Homo sapiens: one gene and its partners. The protein of the gene in region 2 purifies or fractionates together with the protein of the main gene of each other region. This does not show direct contact. Each region holds a gene or a part of one and is shown on either strand. Other genes may lie near its edges.

Region 1 (7,889 bases), on a different chromosome or scaffold from region 2:
TCCATTGTCCCCACTGCCCACAAATGGCTGACAAATATTTATTGGGCACCTACTATGTGCCAGGCACTGTGTAGGTGCTGAAAAGTGGCCAAGGGCCACCCCCGCTGATGACTCCTTGCATTCCCTCCCCTCACAACAAAGAACTCCACTGTGGGGATGAAGCGCTTCTTCTAGCCACTGCTATCGCTATTTAAGAACCCTAAATCTGTCACCCATAATAAAGCTGATTTGAAGTGTTACCTTTTTTTGGAGGAATTGGGGAGAAGAATGGGAAAAAAGATGGGAGTGACTGCATAATGTCAGCATTTTGTGCTTTTGGCTCAGCATTTGGATTGGATGGAGGATGTAAGTATAGTTTAAAAGCAAGAATAAGTATATTTAGGGGCCCTATGATAATTTAGGGTATTATCTGAAAGCAAGAATCTAGTAGCCAAGGGAGAAACCGCACACACTAGGTCAGGGGTCCCCAACCCTTGGGCCACAGACTGGTACTGGTCCATGGCCTCTTAGGAACTGGGCCACACAGCAGGAGGTGAGCAAGCATTACTGCCCAAGCTCCACCTCCTGTCAGATCAGCATAAGCATTAAATTCTCATAGGAACTCGAACCCTATTGTGAACTGTGCATGCAAGGGATCTAAGTTTCTCGCTTCTTACGGGAATCTAATGCCTAATGATCTGGGGTGGAACAGTTTCATCCTGAAACCAGCCCTCCGTCGCCACCGACCATGGAATAATTGTCTTCCACGAAACTCTTCCCTGGTGCCAAAAAGGTAGGAGACCACTGCACTAGATGATGCACACACTTTGTCCCTCATCCTAGGGCTTTTACTTATGGCCACTTAGGAGATTCCTAAGGCCACAAGTCAAGTAGATGGAGAGAGTATCTTGAAACTTTGTCCACCTTGCAGCAATATGTTGCTAGGTTTGAAACATGGAGTCATGAGGCATTTTGAAAGCCAATAATATCTACAGTTTATTAAGTATTCACTATGCATCAAGTGCTTCATTACATTATTAATACATCAACCCTATGAAGTAGGTGCTATTAAAACCCTATTTCACTCAGAAATTGAGGCACAGAGATCTGCCCAAGATTGCAAGGAATAAGCGGCAGGACCAGATCTCTTCATCACATTTCACATTCCAAATCACTCAGCTATAAACTCCCTAACATGACAGGTTGCCATTTAGAGGTACCAAATGGTTGTCTGCCCTGCTCCTTCCTTGATGCCAACCAGCCTGATTAGCATTGATCAAAGACCAAGCCAGAGAGGTAGTCCTCTCCCTTTTCAATTTCATTTCATTTCTTTCTTTTTCTGAAACAGGGTATTGCTCTGTTGCCCAGCCTGGAGTGCAGTGGCACAAATGGCTCACTGCAGCCACAACCTCCTGGGCTCAAGCAATCTTCCTACCTCAGCCTCTCATTGTTCCATATCTATATCTCTTATGCCCAAAATAAAATTTCCCCTGCCCCTTGTCTGCACTAAACTATAAGTTTCCAAAATGAACCCTTCCCGTACTCTATTTGGTACACATCTTGTCTCCTGAATAGAGTGTATTTTTTATTTTATTTTATTTTGGAGACGGAGTCTCGCTCTGTCACCTAGGCTGGAGCGCAGTGGCACAATCTCAGTTCACCGCAACCTCCGCCTCCCGGGTTCAAGCAATTCTCCTGCCTCAACCTCCTGAGTAGCTGGGATTACAGGCGCATGTGGCCACGCCCAGCTAATTTTTTGTATTTTAGTAAAGATGGGGTTTCACCATGTTCCCCAGGCTGGTCTCCAACTCCTGAGCTCAGGCAATCCACCCGCCTCAGCCTCCCGAAGTGCTAGGATTACAGGTGTGAGCCACCGCAGCCGGCCATCTCCTGAATAGATTTTAAATACCTAGAGGTCAGGGATGATTATTCAATACATATATATTGAATACTTACTATGTGTTGGACCCGGTGCTAGGGTTTTATGTATATATTTGAGAGCTCCACATCCCTGGATCTGAATCCTCCACTTCCCACTGGAACCATGCCCCTCCCAGTCCCGGTAAGTAAGAGGGAAGATCGGGAGGGCCAAATCCTACACCAGGGTCTATCTTAGGGAGGGAAGGGACCTGGCTGGGGGGAGGGGGATTCTGAGGAGTGAAACCACTTCCTGTGTAGCTAGTTCCTGTGTTGACAGAAAGAGCAGAAGAGGAGGTGGGGTGGAGGGAGCAGAGCCAGGGATTAGGGGACTACTGAGGCTCTGGAGATGAGACCGCCAGGAGTCCTTCCCCACCATGAGCCCCCTCCACTCCTGCAGCTGGAGGAGTTTTTCCCAGTCTCAGTGCTGCCCTGGGGCGAGAGAGACTGAACAAGCTGTTTGGGTGGGAAGAGAATGGAGGAAGTTGACAGGGATGGGCGGGGCCCGTGGGGGGGCTGACCAGGAACCCAGCTTCCTGCTCAGTACCCAGGCATCCAGCCCCCAGCTCACCCCCACCCCTTCCAGCCCCCACTCCCCTCAGGAACCCAAGGTTCCAGCCCTCCTCCCAAATCCCAGCCACCCCTCCCCCACCAGTTTCTCCCCTCTAGGGGATGGAGGCTGAGAGACCCCAGGAAGAAGAGGATGGTGAGCAGGTGAGCTGGGCACGGGGTTGGGGAGGCTGACACTGGGAAAGAAGGGAGGTGAGAGGACCTGGGGCAGAAATGTAGGGACACAGGGGCCTTGAAAGGCTTGGGCAAACTGAGGCAGGAACAGAGACACACAGAGAGGAAACGGGCCACTGGCCTAGCCCCCTGTCCACTCCTCCCGCTTCAACCACCACTGCTTGACTAGAATGGACATATTTTGGCATCAGGGCCCCCCTCAGGATGAGGAAGGCTGGCCCCCTCCAAACTCCACCACTCGGCCTTGGCGATCTGCTCCTCCATCCCCTCCTCCTCCAGGGACCCGCCACACAGGTACCCCTACCCACCCAGGGAGAGCCCCGACCCTAGTGCCCACATCCTGACCCCATTACCAAGGCCCACTCCATTGTGGGCCCTCTCCCCACCTCCTCCAGACTCCCCTTGGGATTCCCCATTGCACCCCCTCTCCTCTGATCCAAAGTCCCTAATCACGTCACCCTGTCCACACTCCCCCACGGCTCCTGTCTGCCAACCTCTCTGGGTCTCTGAGCCCTCCACACCCCTCTCCCCAGCCCTGGGACCCCGCTCGGCCTCCCTGCTCTCCCTGCAGACTGAACTCCTTCTGGACCTGGTGGCTGAAGCCCAGTCCCGCCGCCTGGAGGAGCAGAGGGCCACCTTCTACACCCCCCAAAACCCCTCAAGCCTAGCCCCTGCCCCACTCCGTCCTCTCGAGGACAGAGAACAGCTTTACAGCACTATCCTCAGTCACCAGGTAAGACATCCCCCCAGGAGGCAAACCCAGGCCTCCTGGTCTCTTGGCCCCTGTTCTCTTTGGGGCTCTACTCCTGTTTCTCCCTAGGCACCCCATCGCCTTCACAGGTTTCCTATATGCCTCCCCATACCAACCCTTGATCCTCTCAAGAACCTCCTCCTCTCAGACCCTCACCAAAGCTCTCCCTCTCCCTCCACTCCTCCAGTGCCAGCGGATGGAAGCCCAGCGGTCAGAGCCTCCCCTCCCTCCAGGGGGGCAAGAGCTCCTGGAGTTGCTGCTGAGAGTTCAGGGTGGGGGTCGAATGGAGGAGCAAAGGTCCCGGCCCCCCACACACACCTGCTGAGACTTGAGCCCCAACCAGCCCTTCCTTGCCACTGGTCTCAAAGCTGGGCAGCCCATTGCATGCCCTCAACTCTTGCTTGGCAGGGGTACCAGAGACTGAAAGACACGGCACAAATCTCAATATTCATCTCCCACATCACCTTCCCTGGGAACTGGACAGGGTGAAAGTCCTCAAACTCTGGGAACAGGCGAGATGGAACAGGGATTTAACTCCCCGCCCACAGGTCCATGGGAGCTTGAGGCAGTAAGGGGGATCCCAGGCACCCATCTCAAGGAGTGGCTGGGAGTCTTTTCCCTAACTTGTGGGGACACCACCAGTTGTCAAGCTACTAGGCAGTAGGGTCTGAGGGCTCAGGCCTCCACCTGAGAGGTTATAACCTGAGAGACAGCTCTACCCTTCCTCCCAGTAAGAAGGGAAGGTGGGTGGGCACCTGAGAGATTAAGACTATTCTCCCAGTCCCACTACCAGCACCCCCGATCCCTGAGACTGAGGGGTTTACGGGCTGTGAATGGACCTTCAGCCCTGCCCACCCTCCCTCCCCACTGCTGCTGAGTCTGTCTGATGTTTTGGTTGTGTGAATAAATATAATTCCCCTCTGGACTGCAGACTGGTATCTGGGGGGCCCAGGCGGGGTGAAAGGTAGGAAGGTGAGGCCAGAGGCCTTTTCTCTCCCCAGTCTGGCCAGAGGCCAGCTCCCCTCCCCGGCTGGTTAATTACTGGCTCATTAAGCAGCGGCTGGAGACCTCCCTAATTATCTCCCCCAGCCCCCCTCTTCGGTTTTAATTAAGTAGAACAGGGAGGGGAGTCATTAGAACAAGAAATATGAACTGAGCTGCCGGTGAACCCAGGCATTCCAGCGGCCTGAGTCCACATCGCTTAGATCCCTGATTCAGGACCCAGGTGACAGACGCCCCCAGCCGCCAACACAGCCCCACTCCTAGGCCGCGGAAGTCCAGCCAGGGGGCTTTCCCATATCTTTCAGATGGCCCGTCTCCTCCCCTCATCCCCTCTTCCCTCTCCCCTCCTCCACTAGGTCTCAGTTCCTCTGTTTCTGTGTCTCTCTCTCCGCCCCCAGCTCCTCCCTGTTCCTCCTCTCTTCTCCCCTCCTCTTCCTCTCCGGCTCCCCTCCCCCAGCCTCCCTCCCTCGCTCCCCCCCCTTCTCCCTCCTCCCTCCTCCCTCTCTCTCACACACACCCCCGCTTGGGCCTCCTCTCTCTCTCCGGCTCCATTTTCTCCGCCGCCGGGGGCCGGGGTCTCCTGTGGGGGGCCCAGCCGGTATCCCAGGTCTCCCTTCAGTGCCGGGGTGAACCCCCGGGGGAGCCGGGAGCCGGGGGCAGACGGGCGGGGGTTGGGGCGGAGGGAGCAGCGGCCCCAGCGAGTTTGGGGGGAGAAGTAACCAGGCGGGGGGAGGGGCGGAGCAGGGAGGGGGCCTCAGGGCCCCCCCCCAGCTATGGACGAACGGCTACTGGGGCCGCCCCCTCCAGGCGGGGGCCGGGGGGGCCTGGGATTGGTGAGTGGGGAGCCTGGGGGCCCTGGCGAGCCTCCCGGTGGCGGAGACCCCGGTGGGGGTAGCGGGGGGGTCCCGGGAGGCCGAGGGAAGCAAGACATCGGGGACATTCTGCAGCAGATAATGACCATCACCGACCAGAGCCTGGACGAGGCCCAGGCCAAGTGAGTGCCCCCACTCCGGGACCCCACACAGACCCAGCAAACCCCGTTCACATGTTCTGAATCTTCTGGGAGCCCCCCCCAACTCCAGGGCCCTCTCCAGGATCCAACAGCTCTCTTCTCTCCTTATTCCTGGGAGCCCATAGAAAAGTGATCCCTCTCAAACCTCCCTTCACCCCCAGGCCCTGAAACCTTCACAGAGGGAACCCCCGGTGGCCCGGCTCCCCACTCCTAACCTTTTGCCGACCCCTGCAGTCTCCTGGAACAGCCCCATCCCCGGGAGCCCCCTCTGGCTCCCAGACTAAGAAACTGTTCTTGGGCTACGTTATCTTCTCCCCTAACTCTCCACCCAGCCCCCTCATTCTCTCCAGATGTGGAGACCTCCACACCCTCTCCAGAGCCCCTAAAGCTCCTCTCCACTGCTCAGCCAGACACTAGGTGCATCAAAGCCTCCCACCTGCTCAGCCCCAGGACCCCTTCACACACCCTACACTGATCTCCCCAGTTAGCTCGGCACCCCCAGCCCCACTCTGCCACCTCAAACTCTGACTCTTCTCAACCCCAGCCTCTGTCTCTCTCCCTCTGAAACCTACCAAGTCACTTTCCTTTCTCCATCCACTCCCAGATTCCTCCTCCTACCTTTCTAGACCATCTCCCAAAGCCCGCAGCCTTTAACCTGCTGCCTGCATCTTCCCTGTGTCTCCCTGAAGCTGAGGAGCTTCCCCATGCTCTGGGAGCTGATCTTTTCCCAAGAACTCCTCATTCCACCCCCAACTCATTCCACCCCCAATCCGCTTCCTCCCTCCGCAGACTGACCCTCCTCCCTCCTTGTTCTCAGGCCCCCTGCTCTGTTTCTCTAGCTCCTCAACTTTTCTCTTTCCCCACTCCCACTCCTCCCAAGGAAACACGCCCTAAACTGCCACCGAATGAAGCCTGCTCTCTTTAGCGTCCTGTGTGAAATCAAGGAGAAAACTGGTATGTGGGCCCCCCCCGGATTGCTCAACTCTGGGAACAGAACCCTGTTCATTATAGGGCTAGAGTGTGACAACTTGGGGCCCTGAGGAAAGTAAGGAGTCAGGGGGACTGGGGAAGGAACCAAAGCCTGGGAACTTGGCTCTCCAGGAAGCACCAGGAGGACTGAGCACTGGGTATTGGGGTCTCTGGGTCCCTAAGTCCACTCGCCTGCATGCTAGGCCTCAGCATTCGGAGCTCCCAGGAGGAGGAGCCGGTGGACCCACAGCTGATGCGCTTGGACAACATGCTTCTGGCAGAGGGTGTGGCTGGGCCCGAGAAAGGGGGCGGCTCAGCAGCAGCAGCTGCAGCCGCTGCAGCCTCTGGTGGTGGTGTGTCCCCTGACAACTCCATCGAACACTCGGACTATCGCAGCAAACTTGCCCAGATCCGTCACATATACCACTCGGAGCTGGAGAAGTATGAGCAGGTAAGGAGAGGAGGCTTGGGTGGGTGGAGGGAAGGGCTCTTGCAGGGGAATCCCATGGTCAAAGGGCTCCTCCTCACCAGCCCACTGGCCCCCACTACAGGCATGTAATGAGTTCACGACCCATGTCATGAACCTGCTGAGGGAGCAGAGCCGCACCAGGCCCGTGGCCCCCAAAGAGATGGAACGCATGGTGAGCATCATCCATCGAAAGTTCAGCGCCATCCAGATGCAGCTGAAGCAGAGCACCTGCGAGGCTGTGATGATCCTGCGCTCCCGTTTCCTGGATGCCAGGTGGGCCCAGGGACCCCAGGCTGGCCCCCAGCACTGGGCTCCTTCCCATTCCTCTCCAAGACCCTGAGCTGCCATGCTGCACAACATGGTACTCCATGACAATGGTGACTCTGGGGTCATGCCATGTGACAGCCCTGCCAGGACATCAACATCCTCCTCACTGCTCTTCTCCCTCCTCTGTAGACGAAAGCGCCGTAACTTCAGCAAACAGGCCACTGAGGTCCTAAATGAGTATTTCTACTCCCACCTGAGTAACCCATATCCTAGTGAGGAGGCCAAGGAGGAGCTTGCCAAGAAGTGTGGCATCACCGTGTCTCAGGTATTATGGAGGTTGCGGGAGGAGTTGTCAGGCAAAGTGCACGCATCTCAGCTAGGTGCAGTGGTGTGTTCCTGTAATCCCAGCTACTAGGGAGGCTGAAGTGGGAGGATCACTTGAATTGGAGACCAGCCTGGGCAACAGCATAGTGAGACCAGGAAGCAAAAAAAAAAAAAATGCTGTCACTCACATCTTATTCAGTGAAGGACTTCAGAGGCAAATGTTTCTACCTGACCCTCCTTTCTGCCCCACAGGTCTCCAACTGGTTTGGCAACAAGAGGATTCGCTATAAGAAAAACATCGGAAAGTTCCAAGAGGAGGCAAACATCTATGCTGTCAAGACCGCCGTGTCAGTCACCCAGGGGGGCCACAGCCGCACCAGCTCCCCGACACCCCCTTCCTCTGCAGGTGGATCCCACTGTCACCCCGGCTGACTGTTTTGCACACTTCCTGCTTT
Region 2 (7,023 bases):
TAGCAAGACCCTGTCTCAAAAACTAAAACAAAAGAGAAAATCAATTATATCTGAGCAATATCACAGGGAGGATGAGAGGCTTTGCGGATAAAAGTATACCTGGATAGAGGGAGGGAGAAAGATAAAGAGGAGGATCCAGTAAACAGTAGAGGAAAAAAAGGCTTTTAGTAAGGTTTTCTGGTGTCAGTCTGATGTATACTGATATTTAGGCTGTGTTGTAGCTGGCAAACTACTCTTCACACTTTTCAGTTGCTCTTTAATATGCATGAGCTCTCTCGATTAGAGTAGATGAGGAGGGCATTATTCTCTAGGCCGTGTGGCTAAAGCGCTATCATCCCTTGGTCATTGATAGTCCTTGCTGACATTTGATTTACATGCAGTTTTATGTCAGATCCTTTAAAATCACAAATATATGGAGAGAAAAATGGTATAGACAATAGAATATTCTACTGGGCCTATAACTGGTCCATTAAGTGCTTATTTAAATTGTAAACAATCAAATTTAATTTGGTGTTTATAAAAAATTATGTATGTGAACATACATTCTGTTATCTATATGTGTCTGTAATCCATTAGCTTATTTACAATGATCAAAGAATAGAAGTGTGAATAAATCAGAATGGCACATGATTGAAAATGCTGTGTAACTGAAGATGCATTTGTGTAGTCTTGAATTTCATTTGAAACAAAATTGTTAGTCTGTATCTTGAAGCACATTGCTACTTTGTATTTTTATTGATGTATAATTAACATTCAATAAAATGCACATAATATCCAGTTCAAGGAGTTCTGACAATTGTATACACTGTAACTTCTACCAAAATCAGATAGAAAACATTTTTTTTAAGTCACCCTAGAAAGTTCCCTCACCCACCTTCCTCCAAAGGCAATCACTTCCTGACTCCATAGATTTCTGACACTACAGAGATTTTTTGACTGGTCTTGGACTTCACATAAATGGAATCATACAGCATGTGCTTTTTTTGTGTTTGGCTTCTTTCATGTAAGAAAGATTCATCTATGTTGTTGGCAAGTATCAGTGGTTTGTCCTTTTAAGTTGTTGAATAGTATTCCATTGTATGAATGTACCCCAATTTATATTTTCTCCTTGATGGATATTTGGAATAAGATTGTTATGAACATACTTTTACAAGTTTCTTGATAAATACCTAGGAGCAGAGTTACTGAGTCATAGGGTATGTGTATGTTTAACTTTATTAAAAATCTGCCAAACAGTTCTCCAAAGTGGTTTATACTGAGTTCTACTTGCTCCGTATTTTTAGTGTTGCCAATGTTTAGTATTGTCAGCCTTTTCAATTTTAGTCACACTACAGGATGTATGGTTGTACCTCATTATGGTTTTAATTTACATTTTTCTGATGATTAAGAATGTTGAGTGCTTTATCATATGTTAATTGGCTATGCAGTATCTTTTTTTGTGAATTGTTTGTTCAAGTCTTACCTAGTCTTTCATTGGGTCATTCATCTTTTTATTGTTTGTAGGAGCTCTTTATATATTCAAGGTACAAGTTCTTTGTCACATATAGAGATAGATGTGTTGACAGTTTTTTTTTATACAGTCTGTCCCTTGTCTACTTTCTCAATGATATTGTGATGAGCAGAAATTTTTAATTTTTATAAAGTCTGTTTTATCAATTTTTTGTATTATGGCTAGTGTTTTTTGTCCTGACCAATAAATTTTTACCAGTGCCCAGGATTGCAAAGAAAGCTTTTTCTTCTAGAAACTTTATTTTTCTAAGTTTTTCATTTGAGTCTGTGATTGATCTCAAAGTAATTATTATTGTGTTATGATATAAGATAGGAGTTTGGGTTCATTTTCCACCTATATAGATATCTAGTTGTTCCAGCAACATAGGTTTAAGAAAAACTTCCCTTTCTCGGCCAGGCACAGTGGCTCACACCTGTAATCCCAGCGCTTTGGGAGACCAAGGCAGGCAGATCATTTGAGCCCAGGAGTTTGAGACCAGTCTGGGCAACATGACAAAACCACATTTCTACTAAAAATACAAAAATTAGCCGGAAGTACTGGCATGCACCTATAATCCCAGCTACTTGGGGGGCTGAGGCAGGAGGATCATCTGAGGGAGGTGGAGGCTACAGTGAGTTGTTATCATGCCACTGCACTCCAGCCTGAGGGCCAGAGTAAGACCCTGTCTCAAGACAAAACAGAACACATCTCTTTTTTGTTTGTTTTTCTCCATTAGATTGACTTGGCATCTTAGCGTGTCAGCTGAGCTACTTTGCATTTTAGTTGTGCTTATATTGTCAGTTTCTTAAGCACGGACCCTGACCTTAAAAATTAAATGTTTATGCTCCTCTTCCAGATTGGGACTTGACTGAGATTGATCCAGGGCTAGTTACCATGTATTTCCTGATGGAAGAATGTTAAGTATGAATTTGAATTTTAAATGGCTTTTCTGTGGGTCGAGTTAATGGAGACAACCTCATTTTAGAAGCAATTGCATCTTCCTTATAAAATAGGCAGATGTTTAGAATGAAGGAGATGTAAGCAAGGAAAGATCACCTAGGACTCCAACATAGCAAGCTATAGGGAGCTTAATATTTCTTGTTTATTGGCTTGATCTAAATAGATGCAATTATATATAAGCCATGTGTTTTAGTTTCCATCTTTTTCTGTTTTGTTTTGTTTTGAGACAAGGTCTCAATTTGTCACCCAGTTTGGAGTGCAGTAGTGTGATCTTGGCTCACTGCAGCCTCGACCTCCTGGGCTCAAGCAGTCCGTCAGCCTCAGCCTCTCAAGTATTAATAGCTGGGACTACAGGCATGCACCACCATAACTGGCTAATTTTTGTATGTTTAGTAGAGATGGAGTTTCATCATGTTTCCCAGGCTGTCCTTGAACTCCTGAGCTCAAGCAAACTGCTCACCTTGGCATCCCAAAGTGCTGGGATTACAGGCGTGAGCCACCACACCCAGCCTTAGTTTCCATGTTTCTACTCCATTGTCTATTCCAATCCTTTGTGATGCAATTTCTGAATTTGCCTTGGAACAATTTTTAGGGAGACAGTTTGGTTATTTTTTTCTTCTAAGTTTATTTGCTGATAATACACTAAGTTTTAAAAAGAATGTCACCCCAACCTCATTATTCTTATGTAGCTATTTTTACTTTTCCTCATTTCTTTCCAGGCCTGATTCATTCTCATACGTATTTTTATATGATTGTAATCATAGTGTGCATATTGTTTTTTGTTCAGAGATTGAGTTGTAACTAGTGAATGCTGTCTCCCTTAGGTAGATCACCCTTGTTAGTAAAGACAAAGATTAGAGATGGAGAAAAGACAACTGGGGACTTACCAGTGAGGAGTCTTGAATCCTAAAGCTTAACTAAAATAGAAGCAGAAAAAAGCTAAGATTTTCAAAGACAGGATTACCTTTCTGTGGAAATGCAGGACAACTTTGGTTTCCTTATTCATTCCTTCCCCCTTTCTCTAACATATAACAGCTTTAGTGAGATATAATTCGCACACCATACAATTCACCCATTTAAAGTGTACAGTTCAGTGGATTTTGCTACATTCAGAACTGTAGAACCATCACCACCATTTTAGAACATTTTCATCACACCAGAAATAAACCCCTTACCATTAGCAGTTACTACCTAATTCCTCCCAATTCCCCCCTGGTCTCCCCCACCCAGCCCTAGGCAACCACTAATCTACTCTCTCTTAAGATTTGCCTCTTCTGGACATCTCATATAAATGGAATCATATAATATGTCATATTTTGTGCCTGGCTTCTTTCACCCTTATACTACTCTTAAGAATTCGTTTTCACGCCTATAATCCCAGCACCTTGGGAGGCTGAGGCGGGTGGATCACGAGGTCAGGAGATCGAGACCATCCTGGCCAACATGGTGAAACCCCGTCTCTACTAAAAATACAAAAATTAGCCAGGCATGTTGGCACACACCTGTAGTCCCAGCTACCCGGGAGGCTGAGGCAGGAGAATCGCTTGAACCTGGGAGGTGGAGGTTGCAGTGAGCCGAGATCATGTCACTGCACTCCAGCCTGGTGACAGAGTGATGCTCCGTCTCAAAAAAAAAAAAAGAAAAAAGAAAAAAGAAAAATACTGAAATACAGTCAAGGTTCCTCCTGAGATGTGCACCCTTTTTGAGCTATAAAGATATCCACTGCCTCGGGTATATATGTTCAACACCTGCACCCACTCACTAAGGAAGGAACACAAACACACTAAGACAAACTTACAAACTAAGGTAACATATACAGTGATGATAACCCCCTACAAATAAACAGTTTCATATCTGGGCATAACTAAGCATGAACATCATGATAAGTACATACAAGTGAACACAGTTCCTGAAGTGTCTGTGAGAAAGTGAATAAAAACATGGTAAACTAGAAGAAAATGAGGGCTGGGTTTGATATATATATATATAGACTTGTAGGTAAGAAGATTGTTGTATTTCCTTAACCATAGCATAGCAATTCTTTTGAGCAGGATATTATTAGTGATACTTATACAGTAGGGGATTTCCATCCATGTGGAAAATTACAGCCAACAAAATATTTTCATTCCCTGGGTGTGGTGGTAAAACTTTGATGAGGAGTTAAGGAATATTCAGAAGAAGCCCCTCAAATGTATATGAGTCTGGCTTATATTCAGGCAGCCCTTACCCTGAGGCAAACGTGACAAGATATGATACAACCCCCAAGATTTATTTTCATTCATGGTGGGCTATAATTAACCCAGGTTAATACTCTTAGGGAACTATTCTTTTTTTTTTTTTTCCTCTTTAATGTGCCCACTTGAGTGCTAGACCAGCTGAGGAGTTGGGGGTCTAATTTCACTGGAAATAGCAATAAATATGTGATGATTTCAAAGTCATGCCCACCCCACTTTTGTTTTTCTCCTGTTGTCCCTAAGATTTACAGTTTCTTGGTGAAAAATTACAGAACCCTACACAGAAATGGACCAAGGCAGATGTGTAGGATTTCACCTCTGCAAGGCCTTCGGGGCAGGTGGGCTCTTCTGTTAGTCCTCAGCACACCCTCTGTGCTTGCCTTTCCTCTGCCACTTTTCTTGAACCCCCATTATTATTCCTTGTCAAGTCATCTCACTTCCTGCTTTCCTTAGACATTGGCCAGCATTCCAAGTGATATAGTGTGCCCTCCACCAGAGAATAGCTGGCACTGCTTTAAGCCCCTTAGCCTTCCCTCCTACCTCAGAAGAAACTGTTTCCTCTTTTCTTCTCCCACTGCCTGAATCTGGTATAGCACACAAGGGGAGCCTCTGCAGAAATGTTACTTGAACTGGTCCCTGAAAGATGTGAAAGGATTTGAACATGAGAAAGAGTGCAAAAGGACATTTCCTGTGTAATGAACCGTGTGATGTAAGGGCTGCAGGCGGAAGAGCATGGAGGCGTACTTACTTCTGTGTAACACAGGGTGTGTGAAGATCGCTCCTTTCCCTTTACTTTTCTTCTTCTTGCCCTGGATTCCCTCCCAGCTCCAACCTTTTTCAGCCTGTGCTTTGATCTCTTTGTTTAGTATATACTTCTCCACTCCTCTCTGTGTAGCTAATTCTGTCCCTCCCTGACCACCCACAGTGATCTCTGAATTTCTGTACACTAATAGCCAGTACCATTCTTTTGGCAGTTAATTATATATTTTCTTGAAAAAAACAAAAAGCACTTTATGTGCATGTCTCATTTTCCCAAATAGAGTATGTTAGTCAAGGTGTTTAGGTCTCCGGGAACACAAACCCACTTAAGCTATCTTGCTAGATGGTATGGTGGCAGAGCTGGGAGTTGTACTGCATTACTATTGTAAGGCTGCTGAGGTCCGTGAAATGACCTACCACTGGTACCCAGAGCAGACACTTTGAAAGTCTCTGTCCTCTCTCTGCTTGTAGGGCTCTCTTTGGCTTCTTTCTGTGCCTCTGCTCCATTTTAGGACATTAATTTTAATTTTTAAAAAATAGTATGCATTACTGTGTAATTTATCTTGATTGCTGAGCTTTTTTGCACCCTATTAAATACTGAGACACCCTGAGGCAGGTGCCTCCTTTACTTTTTCCCTGTAGCCCCAGCCCTGCTTCATTCTCTTCCCTGCAGACTGACCTTCTGTGCTTTCCCCTTAGCTTCAGCTTCAAGGTGACTAGCTTGTTATGGTAGTGCCTCCAGACTTGGTGATACCTTATGTCTCAACTTGAGTTTTGTCTCCCAGCTTTCCAGATTTCTGGAGAAGAATTGAATTTGATCCGTCCTGGTTAGATTGAGAGTGGTGACCCCTGTACCAAACAGCTGTGAAAGATGTGGCTTTGTTATGTTGTTTCTTTGGCTGTATATTTCACAGGGACTGGAATAAGGGGTGGGTCCCCCCACACAAGGAGGTTTGGGGTTGTTCATCTCAAAACATGCTTATTTTGATGTCAGAAGGAAGTGACCATGCCTTCTCTTTTTTGGTATGTTCCCTGCATCTGGCAGATTGACAGCTAAGAAATAGGTGTATCTCTCTTTTTTTTTTTTTCCATTTTGTTTGAGACTGGGTCTCACTCTGTTGCCTAGGCTGGAGTGCAGGTGTGATCATAGGTCCCTGCAACCTCCGCCTCCCAGGCTCAAGCAATCCTCCCACCTTAGCTGCCCAAGTAGCTGGAACTAAAGGCACGTGCCACCATGCCTGGCTAATTTTTTGTAATTTTTATAGAGATGGGGTCTCTTTATGTTACCCAGGCTAGTCTCAAACTCCTGGGCTCAAGCAGTCCTCCTGCCTTGGCCTCCCAAATTGCTGGGATTACAGAGGTGAGCCACCACACTCAGTCTTCTCTTATTTGGTGTCTATTTATTCCTATGACTTGCCATTTGACCATTAGGATTAACTTTTAGGTATAATAGTCAATTCAGAGCAATTTTTTTTTTCGAGACAGGCTTTCGCTGTCATCCAGGCTGGCGTGCAGGTGTGATCATAGCTCACTGCAGCCTTGAACTCCTGAGCTCAAACAATCCTCCTGCCTCAGTCTCCC
Region 3 (7,023 bases), on a different chromosome or scaffold from region 2:
CTCGATCTCTTGACCTTGTGATCCGCCCGCCTCAGCTTCCCAAAGTGCTGGGATTACAGGCGTGAGCCACCGTGCCCAGCCCCAATTATTTTTACATACAGGATGTTTTCTAAGTAAGAAAATTTAACCTATGTCTAAAAGTAAACAACAAAAAACTGCTCATGGAATCTTCCATTTTAAGAAATAATCTCTTGAATATACCCTATCAGTTAACTGTTTATATTTTTGTTTTATTTTTTTTAGAGATGAGGTCTCACTGTGTTGCCCAGGTCGGTCTCAAACTCCTGGGCTCATGTGATCCTCATGCCTCAGCCTCCCAAGTAGCCTGATACATAGGTACATGCCACTATGCCTGGCTAGAATTTTCCATTTTAAATAAAAGTAACAAAAAATACCCCAAAGATGTACTGTTCCATAAGCAGACACAAATTTAAAATATGGCTATTTTCTACTGGGACACCTGGTCCTGGGGCTTGCTCTTTTCGATGTTTGTTCGTAGCTTATCTTTAGCACCTAGGACGATGTGTGTCTCCTATTAGGCACTCAAGAAAATAGGTTTTGAATGAATGTGGCTGATACGATAAGGGTCTGCTTTGTTCTATGATGTGACCATAGAATAAGCATCGGCTTCATTTGAGAGATTGGATCTTGCTGATGAACCTTTATTTTCATTTCAGATTAGAAAACTGAAGCTTCAGTTAGAGGAGGAACGACAGAAATGCTCCAGGAATGATGGCACAGTGGGTGACCTGGCAGGACTGCAGAATGGCTCAGACTTGCAGTTCATCGAAATGCAGAGTAGGTACCAGGGGACAGGCCAGTCCCAGTCTGTATATAGACTGTGTCCCAGGGGTGGGTTTGTCAGCAGGTTGCTGGTATCTTGTAATACACTTTTCTTTTTTTTTTTTTTTTGAGATGGGAGTCTCACTCTGTCACCCAGGTCAGAGTGCAGTGGTGCAATCTCCGTTCACTGCAGCCTCTGCCTCCTGGGTTCAAGTAATTCTCCTGCCTCAGCCTCCTGAGTAGCTGGGATTATAGGCGCCTGCCACCATGCCCGGCTAGTTTTTTATGTTTTTAGCAGAGACAGAGTTTCACCATAGTTACCAGGCTGGTCTCGAACTCCTGGCCTCAGGTGATCTGCCCACCTCAGCCTCCCAGAGTGCTGGGATTACAGGCGTGAGCCACCGCGCCTGGCCGTTAATATGCTTTTCTTAAGAAGAGCTATGCTGCAAAAATTGGTTAGTCCTTGGCTAGTCCAGAAAAACAGTCCTAGTCAGCAATATAGCTGAATAGAGGCTCCACTAGCCTGTGTGCTTCAGGGGATAATGAGGTTTATTGCTCTTACCCTTTCTGGATAAAGTGATTTCTAGGAACTTTTTGCACACAGTGAAATGCCTTTTGACAACCTGGCACTGTCCTTTTCCACATCCATTTGTCATCTTTAAGCTCCCATACAGCAAGCACCCTTCCCCATTAAAGTTTTTTCTCTGGAATTTGTCTTGGATAATTGGACGAATCTATTTGGAACTACTTCACACTAAATTGAGTAGTTTCAGAATTTTCCTAGAAGTATTTTGTTAATCCAAGTTTATCTTTATTAGATGAAATTTAAAATAAGTCCACAAAATAAAGTCTATTCTATTCATTTTACCCGAATTATTCCAGTTTTTCTCATTTTTCTACTTCTGACCTCATAATAAAATGATCACTGCAGTCACACTAATTCCCATAGTAGGAAGATTTCAGCAGGAATTTGTAGTTAGCCTTTGTTAGTGATTATGTGTAATTCTCGGACAGAGGAGATTTTCATTTTTCCAATAAGAATAGTGACTTTTCTGATAACTAATATTAAAATCTTGTTTATTCCATGGACTTTTCATCTAAACCTTCTGAGATAGGCTGCCAAGAAAAGACATGTTGGGGCCAGGCGTGGTGGCCCGCACCCATAATCCCAGCATTTGGAGAGGCTGAGGTGGTGGATTGCTTGAGCTCAGAAGTTTGAGACCAGCCTGGGCAATGTGGTGAAAACCCGTCTCTTCAAAAAAAAAAAAAAGAGAAAAGACTTTTTGGGTTAAGGCTTATTAATACTAACTTTTGATATTGGTATTATCTTTTCTGTTGGACATCAGTTAGGACACTTGTGACATTTCCTGGTGAATATTTTGTTCAAGAATGTCATTTTGGTGTTGGCGGTAGATGAGAACAGGGACATGGGAAAAGGCAGGCTGACTAGTTAGGAAGCTACTACAGTGGTGAGCCTGAACCAGTTCAGTAGCTGTCAGCAGTCTTAGAGAGAGGGTAGGGAATAGATCTGAGAGATTGTCCTTAAGCAGCAAATTTAAAAGGAAACAGATTTAGGGGGAATGGGCTGGCATTTATGTGTGAATACTTCCTAGAGTAGGTAGGTTGTTGTATAGCTGGTATTTGCAGAAGGTAAAGTACCCAGGCAGGAGGTGTAGAACAAAGTGAGCTTTGCAGGACTGTGGGAAAGCTGGCAAAGACAAAAGCAAGCAGCTTCCCTGGACCAGAAGGCCAGGAGTGGAGCAACTCTTGGTTCTGGATGGTGCCTTGCCTATTATGAGAGTGTTTTGGAATGGGATTTCAAAACACACATGAAGTTACTGAGATAAGAGACTTAAACTTTTGAAAACAGGAAGGGAAAGGTGGTTTGGAGAGTGAGAAGGAAGAAGTACATTTGGATAATCAATAGATTGCTGAGGATAACAATTTAAAAATCAGATCCTGAAGCTTGTTTTAGGGCTCAGAAATAGGAATACTTCTCTTTCACTACCAGATATGGCTTTTGGGGAGATGGTAACCCTGTTCCTTTTAAGGTGACAGTAATTGTCCAATTAGAAAAACCTCTCACCACTTTAGGAGGCTGAGGTGGGTGGATCACGAGGTCAGGAGATCGAGACCATCCTGGCTAACATGGTGAAACCCCGTCTCTACTAAAAATACAAAAATTTAGCCAGGCATGGTGGCGGGTGCCTGTAGTCCCAGCTACTCAGGAGGCTGAGGCAGGAGAATGGCGTGAACCTGGGTGATGGAGCTTGCAGTGAGCCGAGATCGCGCCACTGCACTCTAGCCTGGGCGACAGAGCGAGACTCCATCTCAAAAAAAAAAAAAGAAAAACCTCTCACATTGAAGACTGTATAAGTAATTGTAACCTTGGTCATGTGGAAATGTAGAAAAGTTCTTAAGTTAGATAATCTGAATATTTCCTGTGGTATGTTAGATTTGGTTTATCTTTTGCAAATCTTATTACTGTAATCATGCCAGAGACTGATTTTTGCTAAACTTGGATTCTTGGAGGGATTTTAAAAGTCCCCTGCCATCATTTCTAAACTTTTCATTTTAAGTGATTTACTTCCTAGGTCAGATGTTCATCTAGTAACTTATAGCTCTACCCATAACACATTATCACATTACTGAACAGCATTTATTCCAACATATATTTATTTAGGCATACACTGTGTGCACTTGGCTAGGTACATAGGTAGATTTAGGAAGGCCAAGACAGGGCCCCTCTTCTTGCTTACACATACGATGTTTAAAAAGCATGACAAATGTCATAAAAATGCAAATAAAATACAGCAAGGGAAGGACTTATAATTAAGGGGAGTCATGAAAGAGGTGAAAATTGAGCTTGGCCTTGAAGCAAGTCAGAGGTGGGAGAAAAGGACCCTTACAGTATTGGACAGCAGAAGCAAAACCTGGGAGATGGGAAGGCATGGGGCCGCGTTCAGGGAACTAGAGGGCCCAGTCCCGTGGGCAGGGAGGCTCCACAAGGTTACACACAGGGTTGGTAGGGGCTGCTGCTGAATTGGCAGGGCTCCTTTCTCAAGCCCTGCTCACACATATCATAGGGTAAAGAATTTTCTTCTAACTCTTGCTGCAAGGGATACTGTAGTAACATATATGCTAGAGCATCTTGTAGTATATACAGTCCAGAACCTGGGCTGCTGAAGATGCTGTGGTTGTTGTGTGTGCATTTGTATTTTGTAATTTTTTTTTGGCAGGGGGACGGAGTATCGCTCTGTTGCCAGGCTGGAGTGCAGTGGCGCGATCTTAGCTCACTGCAACCTCTGCCTCCCGGGTTCAAGTGATTCTCCTGCCTCAGCTTCCCGAGTAGCTGGGACTACAGGCCTGTGCCACCACGCCCAGCTAATTTTTATATTTTTAGTAGAGACAGGGTTTCACCATGTTGGCCAGGATGGTCGCCTCTATCTCTTGACCTCATGATCCACCCACCTCGGCCTCCCAAAATGCTGGGATTACAGGCGTGAGTCACCGCGCCCAGCCCTGTATTTTGTAATCTTAAGACTGCATGGTCCTCTCTGTGCCACAGAGGTACTGCCTGATGGCTCATACTGTCATCTCTGACAGGTGAAGATAATTCATTGTCTTCTTCTGTTCTAGGAGATGCCAATAGACAAATTAGCGAATACAAATTTAAGCTTTCAAAAGCAGAACAGGATATAACTACCTTGGAGCAAAGTGTAAGTACTTCTATATGGTACTAAGTTATTTAAATGTCCTTCCTGCATCTAAGTGGCTAACAACCCATGAGTGCCTGGGTTGCCTTTGCAGTTGGATCAATAATAGTTCTGTATTAAAATAGAAAAGCCAGCAGAGAGCACTTGTTGGGACATTTTAGCCTTCTGTTTTCTCTAAAACCATAGGAAACTATAGCTATCAGTTTTTGTAGATATTTCAGGAGAATTCAAGATCATCATTTGTAATAAAATCCCTTACGCATTCCAAAAAGTGTAAGAACTTTTCCATTTAGTGTCTCTTCCTATATTGCTTTGGCACTTAAACAATATGGTCATAATAAAACTTAGCATGGGAAATTGGCCCTAAAATGACTCTACAGCTGTAATCCTCTCTGGGGACATTACTTGATTTATAAATAGCAACTGAGTTCTGAGAGGACTTATGAGTCACCCTTAGGGGACTTGTTAGTAGATTACTTGGCATTTATAATGACATTGTATTTCCATCCTGGCTACCAAAAAGTGGTGACTTCTAGTGCCCAGTACTAGAGGCCTATGTTCTCATACTTACAGATTAGCCGGCTTGAGGGACAGGTTCTGAGATATAAAACTGCTGCTGAGAATGCTGAGAAAGTTGAAGATGAATTGAAAGCAGAAAAACGGAAGCTACAACGAGAGGTACTTCTTTTAATATGTTTCTTGGAGAATACATTCCTAAAAAGAAAAAATCTTCTGGAAATAATTCTTAGCTGTGTAAGAAATTTGATACTTAAGGAAACAGCAGTGGAGTCACTTAACTAATTTGTGTTGGTTTTTGACCTGCATAGTGACTGCCATTTACTTTTATGTTTTGGTCAATTAGATACTAAGTAAAAAGATAGTTTGTATTTTTGCTTCAGATCAGGTCTATTTCTCCAACTTCTATATATCCTTTCTGTGATTAAAACAAATAAACAATCCTCAGTATCATCATTTAACACCTCTAACTGATAGAAAAAATGAGGTTGTGGGTCCTGTGCAAGGCCATCACAGTTAGCAGTGCTTTCATTTCCCAGGAAGTTGAAAATAGAGTAGCACTGGATGTTGTTTCTGACCACATGTAGTGACTGCATTCTCCCTGTCTCCAGTTACGAACAGCACTGGACAAGATTGAGGAGATGGAGATGACCAACAGCCACCTGGCCAAGCGGCTGGAGAAGATGAAGGCCAATAGGACAGCACTTCTGGCCCAGCAGTAGGAAAACCACCCTTCAACCTGGGTGATGCTCCTTGGGGCCCTACCTAGAGGGACTGACTTTTGTCCATTGACACAAACCCCTTTTAGTACTGTTTTGAGTTTTGTCATTAAAACAGCCACCTTTGTATTTTATAATTTATGACAGAATGAAGTCATTTTGAATCTACATGAATGAACACTTTGGATTTTGTTGTAGTTTGATTCTAGGGTAGAACCAGTCCATGCTGTTTTTATTTTTTATCTCCGTAATTGTAGAATCATGTTTACTCAACGTTTTTCCCCAGCTGCCTCAGTAACTGGGCACTCGGAGGCCTTGGCACGGGTTCTGGAGGACAGACAGCAATTCTATGAGTGCTCACTGAGATACTTGCTGGAGACCTCAGAAAACACAAGTGCCTTCTCCACGGTGCAATTCAGACTTCAGTGATCTCCAGTGGTCAAAAGACATTTACCCTTAATATCAGACAACATTTATATTTTAGTGAAGAAACAAGTTCTCGGGTGGGGAATCTATGTTTCACTCAGATTTATATGTTTGGAGGAAAAAAGCCTTTTTTTGTAAAATATTTAAATTTATATAAGAAAATGTTAGAAAAAAATATGGGGAGTGTATATAAAACTTGCTTTATTGCATGGGGCAGGGGAAGTCCAGGCCTAATACTCCTAAAGTAAGAGTTGGGTCCTTTTTTTCTTCAATACAACTGTGCTGTACCTTGTAAAGTATTTTATCTGCTGCTTATTTGTGGAATGAAACCTCAAACAAACCCAAAGGGGGAGGGTAGGGCAGGGCAGGCAGATTGGAAATCTGCCTGCAGATTCTATTAAATACACCCTTTTGCCAACCACAATTGGCTACTGACATGTTCATTTTGTTATAGGAGACTTTAAAACAAATCATGGCAACCACATCCCTCTTCTTTTGTCTCCTTCTCAAGGAAAAACAATCTGGAATGTAGAACTTTTAAAGACTTGAGTTTCACCTTTAGAGGTACCCTGTCCAAGAGGTTTTTTTAAAATCATGGAGTGCAACTACTTTGCAGAATTTATGATTCTCTTTTGCTCTTAGTACCCAGGTGGTTTTATAGAAATGATTATTGTATCTTTAAAGTGCTTACACAGAAAATATATTGGGGGAAAATCTAGTGACTAAAGGCACATAAGATAATAAAACTAGACTTTAAAAAGGTAACTCAAAAGTGAATAAAATCTCTAATATTTGTTCCTTTTTTAATTAGCCCTTCATTTAAAAAATATGGATACCAATCTTCTGAATTGAGATGATTTTCT
Region 4 (7,023 bases), 450 kb from region 2:
GCACCTTCCACCTTCAATTTGAGCAGGACCTCTTCTGAGAAAGCCTCTGCAGCTAGCCCCTCCACACGGTGCCTTCCATATTGCCTGGTAACAGCTCGTGAACTCTGTGTCTCCACTATTGACCAAGAGCTTTCAGTGAGCAGGGGACAGTGGGAGCTTCATAAATGTTTGATGTGCACCTGTGTGCATGACTGAACGTTTTTGCTTACAGAAATAGCTAGGACCATGGAGACGATGATATGGATGATGTTATTTTTATCTCTATGTGCTAGATGCCATCCTCAGAGTTTCATGTGCCGCCTCTCATTTAATCTGGATAAACAACTCTGTGTGTTAGATGATCTCACACTTTTAGAAATGGCTCAGGTCAGGTAAGTTGCTAAGGTAACATACAAGTGATGGAGCCGGAGTTGAAAACCTATGTTCTTAGTGTCTCTCACTACCACCACCTTGGTTCAACCGCCTTTATTATCTTCCTCTTCTTCAAGGGATCTGACCTTTTCCCCGCACACAGTGGGCTTGTGAGAAGTTCATCCACTTTCTACCTACCTCTCCTGACACCTGCTTATTTGTATTTTTCCTTATAATAACTAAATTGGAACCAATCCCAGTGTCCAGCAAGAGGGGTAAAGTTAAGTAAATTATGGAAGATTCACATGGTAAAACAGCATGAAGCCATTAAAAGTACTATTTCTGAAGAGTTCATAACATGAAAACATGGTTATGTGAAAAATGGGGCACAACAGTTTATATACTGTATGAAGATAAATATAAAATATGCGGCCGGGTGCGGTGGCTCACGCCTGTAATCCCAGCACTTTGGGAGGCCGAGGCGGGCGGATCACGAGGTCAGGAGGTCGAGACCATCCTGGCTAACACGGTGAAACCCCGTCTCTACTAAAAATACAAAAAAATTAGCCAGGCGTGGTGGCAGGCGCCTGTAGTCCCAGCTACTCAGGAGGCTGAGGCAGGAGAATGGCGTGAACCCGGGAGGCGAAGCTTGCAGTGAGCCGAGATCGCGCCGCTGCACTCCAGCCTGGGCGACAGAGCGAGACCCTGTCTCAAAAAAAAAAAAAAAAAAAAAAAAACATAAAATATGCAAACAAAGAAAAAAGACCACACATATCACTGCCTAAAGATTGGACGGTCTTTCTTTCTAGTAGCTGCAGAGAAGTCAACAAGGATGAAGGCTGGGGATGGGTTGTTAGGTTTGGCCGCTAGTTTTGGTCCCTGGCGTCGTTTCTGTTTGGGTAGAACTGTGAAGGGGAAAGGGAAAGTCTGACATGACCCGTGAAAGGGAGGAAACCAGCAGAGGACTGCAGTTTGAAGACATAAGAAAGGCACCAGGCATGGGTTAACCTCAGAAAGGAGTGAGGGCCTGAGGCCACAGTGGCAGGAGTTGAAGGCACAGAGATACTGACAGAGAAGGAAGAAAGCCCAGAGAGCTTGACAGCTGCTGAGCAGGAAGGGTGGGTAGGACAGACGGCTTGAGGAGAGTGACAGTGCCACCAACCATTTCTCTGACAGCATCATTCCAGACCCTCAGCATCCAGGCCACCTTCCTCTGGGTGAATTTTCACACCTTGATGCCCATTTTAGTGGCACTATTCTCTAGCCTTGATCTGCTCAGCCATGAGTACGGTGCAACTTCTTGTGAGCATCCCTCAGTGTATCCTGGCATTATGTTAGTGCTTTAAGCAGAGCTGGTACATGCTCTGCCCCTGGTGGGTCAAATCAAGTCCTGGTCCTGCCCCTTACTAACTGGGTGACACCAGGCAAGTTACTTAACCTGAGTTTCCACACCAGTATAATGGACTGAATCATGCTTACCAGCTGAGGAGGTCACTATGAGGATTAATGGCGTGTAAAATCCTTAGCACAGCACCTGACACATAATGCTTAATAAAGATTACTCAAATACTGATGCTATTATAATACAGTTGATTTTTTTTACCTAAATACAGACTTTACATTTATCCCTATAAAATTTTCTGTTTTGTTTAGTGCCCAGCGTTTCTGTAGCTTGTAAAAACCTTTTGAATCTTGATCATCTTTAGCTAATCAATCATTTCATCTGCTTGTTTGATACATGTGTTTTGTTTTTTCATCTACGATACTGGTGAAAGTGTTGAATGAAAGGGGAGGCGGTAGAGCTCTGTGGCATGCCTCTGGAGACCTTTTTTTTTTTTTTTTCCTAAAGGTTGCTCTTGCTCATTAATTAGAACTCAGGTTATGACTGTGTAGTGACAGGTTCACTACAGTCATTCCACCATCTGTTTCTTTCACTTGTGCAAGAGGAACTCACAAATATCTTCAAAGTTCTGCTGAAACTCAGATGTGCAAGGTCAAAAGAAGTGTCTTGACTAGCAGTCCAGGGCCCCTGTCTAAAATGAGGTCAAAGTTCAGCGTAACGATTTTTTTTTTAATTTGGCTAATTCTAAATAGTTTTTAGACTTCTATATACCATTAACAACTCTGGAAAATTAAATGTATCCATTGTATTATGTATGGGTAGTTCAAAGAGAAAAAAAGGGATGAAAAGACTGAAATACTTAGTCTTTAATTGGTGCAACTGAACCACTGGGAATTTGAATTTTTGTTCAAAAGTTGTTTATGGAGTGCTAGTTATGGGAAGCCTTTGCATTGGATTCCAAGCACAAAGACCAGGCTCTTAAAGTTCAAATGCCAGTGGGGGAGATGGGAGGCAGCCTAGATACCTGGGGGAGGAGCAGAGAGCGCTCAAGGGAAGCATCCAGCTCTGCTAGATGGCAAGTGGCAAGGAGAGTGCCAAGATGAGGAGTGTCTCCAGCTACTCCAGACTGTTCAGAGCTGTTTGCTCTTGGATGGGGAGAGGATGGGTGGGGCTAGGGTGGAAGGAACAGAAGTACACAGCAGAAAGCCAAAGAAGGCCTGCCATGTTCCAGAAAGTGCTAGTGGTTTTGGGTGGCCACAGGCAGAGGGTGGATTGAAAAGAGGGTGAGGCCTGAGCAGGAAATTGGCCAGAATGCTGGTTGCCCAGGCCTGGCTCTTCCTCAAAACCCATGTGGGGGTTGATTTTCAAAGCTTTTCTCTTGCCGGGCCCCACCCACAGGAATTCCAATCAAGTACGGATGAGAGAGTCTGTCTGCCCAAAGAAACCTCGTGCTCAGCCTGGCTGAGGAAGCCTCCGGGGGCTGCTGCACCAGTCAAGAGAGGATTGGTGGGGGTAGGGTTGGGGGCTGACTTATGGCCATGGCAAGGGGGCTGGTAGGCAGGGGCGGACAGGAGAGGGCTTTTAAAAGGCAGTCTTTTCTAGCACCTGGTGACTGTTGGGCTGTTGGGGTGGAGACACAGAGGGGTGCCCAGCACTGTCCCAGGCTTCTGACATGAGGGGCAAGAGAGCTAGGAAGGAGGAGCGTCGGCATCACTGGAGTTTGGAATTTATGAGTCTATGAGGACATTTAGGGGCTGACATCTTGGAGGCAATTGGAAATGTGGTGTAGAGCTCCAGTGCACGATCTGGGTGGGAGGTCTCAGATGCACAGGTGCCAGGCAGTTGCAGAAGCTGTGGAATTGGGTGGAACTCTCCAGAAACAGCCTATCATGAGAAGAGGCTGGGAAGGACCTTGGGAGACACGGACATGGGGGGCAGTGGGAGGGGCAGGGGAGCCAGGGGAGGGGCCCATGAGGAGCGAATGAAGAGGAGGAGGAAGAGAGGGGCATGGTGTGACAATCTGGCCTGGCTGACCTGGAGTGTGGACACTCCCAGTCCAGAAAGCGGTTCTAGGAGGGAAACACATGTCGTCCCATCTTGTCCCATCTTCCATATAAGTCTTCAAGTCATTTCTGTGGCTCATGCCAGAAGATCCCTCAGAAAAGCAGGCGGCGTGAGAAGATGCTGTTCTCATCTCACCTGTGTGCCTTGGGGGGGTGGCTGGCATGGTCTTGAGCTCATAAGGTTCAGTGGTCCCGAGCCTCTGCCTCAGCTTGGCGCCTTGGCATGGGGAGGGCACTCAGGGAAGTTGGGAGGTGGCCCTCTCTTTCCTGGCTCCGCTGAAGGGCTTGGCGAGCTGTTCCATCCCAGTCCACAGACTCCTGCCTCATGGGAAGGCCCCATATTCTGGAGGTCAGTTGACAGCTGGTTACATTGTTTGCATGAACTGCGGACTGCATCTGTTTGGATGAATGCTGTAAAGTTAACTCTTCCTCCAGTTTGAAGCATTGCTTTGTGGGTAGAGGAATGTGAGGGAGGAGGGGACAGGAATGAATGGGTGGAACTTACCCGGAGCTGAGTAAACTCACCGTTGTTTACTTACCAGGCTGGGTTTCAGCTGCAGGGCACTCAATGCCAGCAGAAGCACCAGGATCGCAGGGTGTGGGCGGCCTGGGGTACTGGGCTGAGGAGTCACTGGTCTTCAGAAGAGAAGCCGTCAGTGGTTACGTATGTCCTAATACTGCCTGCCATTTAATACCACTTTTAGCTGAAACCAATCCTAAATTATAGTTAGGAGAGCACATGGACTCTCAAGTAGATGGTTGCAGTTCAGAGTTCAGGATTACTTTCAGGGCCAGATTCGCTTAACTAATACGGAGTTCAAACTAGGAGTCACAGGCCCTAGCTCTGCTGGAGTCCTGGTCCTTTGAGACTCTGTCTGCTGTTTGGTGAGTTATTTCTCTCTGGGCTTCAGTTAGGGGCTCTGTTAAACAAAAGGATTGATTGGCCTAGTGACTTTCACATTACTTCTCAGAGCCCAGGCTTCCTTGGAAGGCCCCCAGGGCTCTCAGCTCCAGCTCCCATCAGAACACCTCCACTTTCACCAGCTTCGCTTAGCCAGCTGTTACAACTTAATTTTTTTTTTTTTTTGAGACGGAGTTTCACGCATGTCACCCAGGCTGCAGTGCAATGGCAAGATCTTGCCTCACAGAAACCTCCGCCTCTCGGGTTCAAGCGATTCTCCTGCCTCAGCCTCCCAAGTAGCTGGGGTTAGAGGCATGCGCCACCACGCCCAGCTACTTTTGTATTTTTAGTAGAGACGGGGTTTCTCCATGTTGGTCAGGCTATTCTCAATCTCCCAATCTCAGGTGATCCACCCACCTCGGCCTCCCAAAGTGCTGGGATTACACACGTGAGCCACCGCGCCTGGCCAGAACTTCCTTTTGAAGTAGGCTTTCTGCAGCTCTAAAAAGGAGTTTGACAAACAACTTGGAGTAGATAATCAGTTCTGAGACTCTGTAGTGGCCAATTCTTGATAAATTTGGTAATTCATGTACAATTCTTTTGGGGGGCATATATTTTGATATTTGCCTTTAAAGATTAACATTCATTGTTCTGATTATGAAAGTAATAGGTACATATTGTAGAAAATACATCCAACTCTCAGGTGTCTCTTATGAGGATCCCATTCCTAATCCATTTTAATGAAGTAAGCTTCATGACGTTAGTAATAAATATTTTCAATAGCAGACCTGGGGTAGGAGCTGTGTAGCCCGTGGCAACAAGGATGGGTGTGGGTGTGTGTGCCTGAGACAGGCGTGTCTGTGTGTTTCTTTATGAGGCCTCCATCGTCCTATCTGCACAAGAGTGTGTGTCACTGCCTGCCAGGTCATTCTTCCATTCTCGTTCTCTCAAAACTTACACATCCATGTCACGTTTCGGCAAGCTTCTGCTTTTTGCTAGCTGTTAAGGATTAAAGCAACTCAAATGATTTAGGGGTAGTCATGATTGATATCCATCCAGTGACTTTTCTGTTTTATTGATTAAGTAAGGCGATTTATATTAACTAATAGATAGGTTCCTCATCCAGCATTGTCCTAGTCTAGTACTTGTAACTGTGAACTTTGTTTGTTTGTTTGTTTGTTTGTTAGTTTTTCTTTTTTTTTTTTCTTTTTTCTTTTTTTTTTTTATTGATCATTCTTGGGTGTTTCTCGCAGAGGGGGATTTGGCAGGGTCACAGGACAATAGTGGAGGGAAGGTCAGCAGATAAACAAGTGAACAGAGGTCTCTGGTTTTCCTAGGCAGAGGACCCTGCGGCCTTCCTCAGTGTTTGTGTCCCTGGGTACTTGAGATTAGGGAGTGGTGATGACTCTCAACGAGCATGCTGCCTTCAAGCATTTGTTTAACAAAGCACATCTTGCACCGCCCTTAATCCATTTAACCCTGAGTGGACACAGCACATGTTTCAGAGAGCACAGGGTTGGGGGCAAGGTCACAGATCAACAGGATCCCAAGGAAGAAGAATTTTTCTTAGTACAGCACAAAATGAAAAGTCTCCCATGTCTACCTCTTTCTACACAGACACGGCAACCATCCGATTTCTCAATCTTTTCCCCACCTTTCCCCCCTTTCTATTCCACAAAACTGCCATTGTCATCATGGCCCGTTCTCAATGAGCTGTTGGGCACACCTCCCAGACGGGGTGGTGGCCGGGCAGAGGGGCTCCTCACTTCCCAGTAGGGGCGGCCGGGCAGAGGCGCCCCTCACCTCCCGGACGGGGCGGCTGGCCGGGCGGGGGGCTGACCCCCCCCACCTCCCTCCCGGACGGGGCGGCTGGCCGGGCGGGGGGCTGACCCCCACCTCCCTCCCAGACGAGGCGGCTGGCCTGGCGGGGGCTGACCCCCCACCTCCCTCCCGGACGGGGCGGCTGCCGGGCGGAGACACTCTTCTCCTCCCAGACGGGGTGGCTGCCGGGCGGAGGGACTCCTCACTTCTCAGAGGGTGCGGCTGCCGGGCGGAGGGGCTCCTCACTTCTCAGACGGGGCGGCCGGGCAGAGACGCTCCTCACATCCCAGACGGGGCGGCAGGGCAGAGGCGCTCCCCACATCTCAGACGATGGGCGGCTGGGCAGAGACGCTCCTTACTTCCCAGATGGGATGGCGGCCGGGAAGAGGCGCTCCTCACTTCCTAGATGGGATGGCGGCCAGACAGAGATGCTCCTCACTTCCCAGATGGGGTGGCGGCCGGGCAGAGGCTGCAATCTCGGCACTTTGGGAGGCCAAGGCAGGCGGCTGGGAGGTGGAGGTTGTAGCGAGCCGAGATCACGCCAC

Evidence for each region.
Region 1: the proteins of TMOD3 (region 2) and PBX2 purify together in Homo sapiens (affinity purification with mass spectrometry; 2 studies listed by BioGRID and IntAct, with this or other methods). This does not show direct contact.
Region 3: the proteins of TMOD3 (region 2) and LRRFIP2 purify together in Homo sapiens (affinity purification with mass spectrometry; 2 studies listed by BioGRID and IntAct, with this or other methods). This does not show direct contact.
Region 4: the proteins of TMOD3 (region 2) and MYO5C purify together in Homo sapiens (affinity purification with mass spectrometry; 3 studies listed by BioGRID and IntAct, with this or other methods). This does not show direct contact.

The regions. Positions count from the first base shown.
Region 1 is NC_000006.12:32,187,193-32,195,081, reverse strand, and holds the start of PBX2 (pre-B-cell leukemia transcription factor 2), read left to right. Parts: upstream 1-4,879; 5' UTR 4,880-5,166; coding exon 5,167-5,387; intron 5,388-6,285; coding exon 6,286-6,359; intron 6,360-6,577; coding exon 6,578-6,825; intron 6,826-6,925; coding exon 6,926-7,116; intron 7,117-7,299; coding exon 7,300-7,435; intron 7,436-7,686; coding exon 7,687-7,840; intron 7,841-7,889. Other genes in the region: GPSM3 (G-protein-signaling modulator 3), read left to right, coding at 2,569-2,610, 2,832-2,934, 3,174-3,373, 3,579-3,716. UniProt on the Homo sapiens protein: Transcriptional activator that binds the sequence 5'-ATCAATCAA-3'. Activates transcription of PF4 in complex with MEIS1.
Region 2 is NC_000015.10:51,832,649-51,839,671, forward strand, and holds part of TMOD3 (tropomodulin-3), read left to right. Parts: intron 1-7,023. UniProt on the Homo sapiens protein: Blocks the elongation and depolymerization of the actin filaments at the pointed end. The Tmod/TM complex contributes to the formation of the short actin protofilament, which in turn defines the geometry of the membrane skeleton.
Region 3 is NC_000003.12:37,052,565-37,059,587, reverse strand, and holds the end of LRRFIP2 (leucine-rich repeat flightless-interacting protein 2), read left to right. Parts: intron 1-677; coding exon 678-798; intron 799-4,422; coding exon 4,423-4,502; intron 4,503-5,072; coding exon 5,073-5,177; intron 5,178-5,626; coding exon 5,627-5,737; 3' UTR 5,738-6,962; downstream 6,963-7,023. UniProt on the Homo sapiens protein: May function as activator of the canonical Wnt signaling pathway, in association with DVL3, upstream of CTNNB1/beta-catenin.
Region 4 is NC_000015.10:52,285,797-52,292,819, reverse strand, and holds part of MYO5C (unconventional myosin-Vc), read left to right. Parts: intron 1-7,023. UniProt on the Homo sapiens protein: May be involved in transferrin trafficking. Likely to power actin-based membrane trafficking in many physiologically crucial tissues.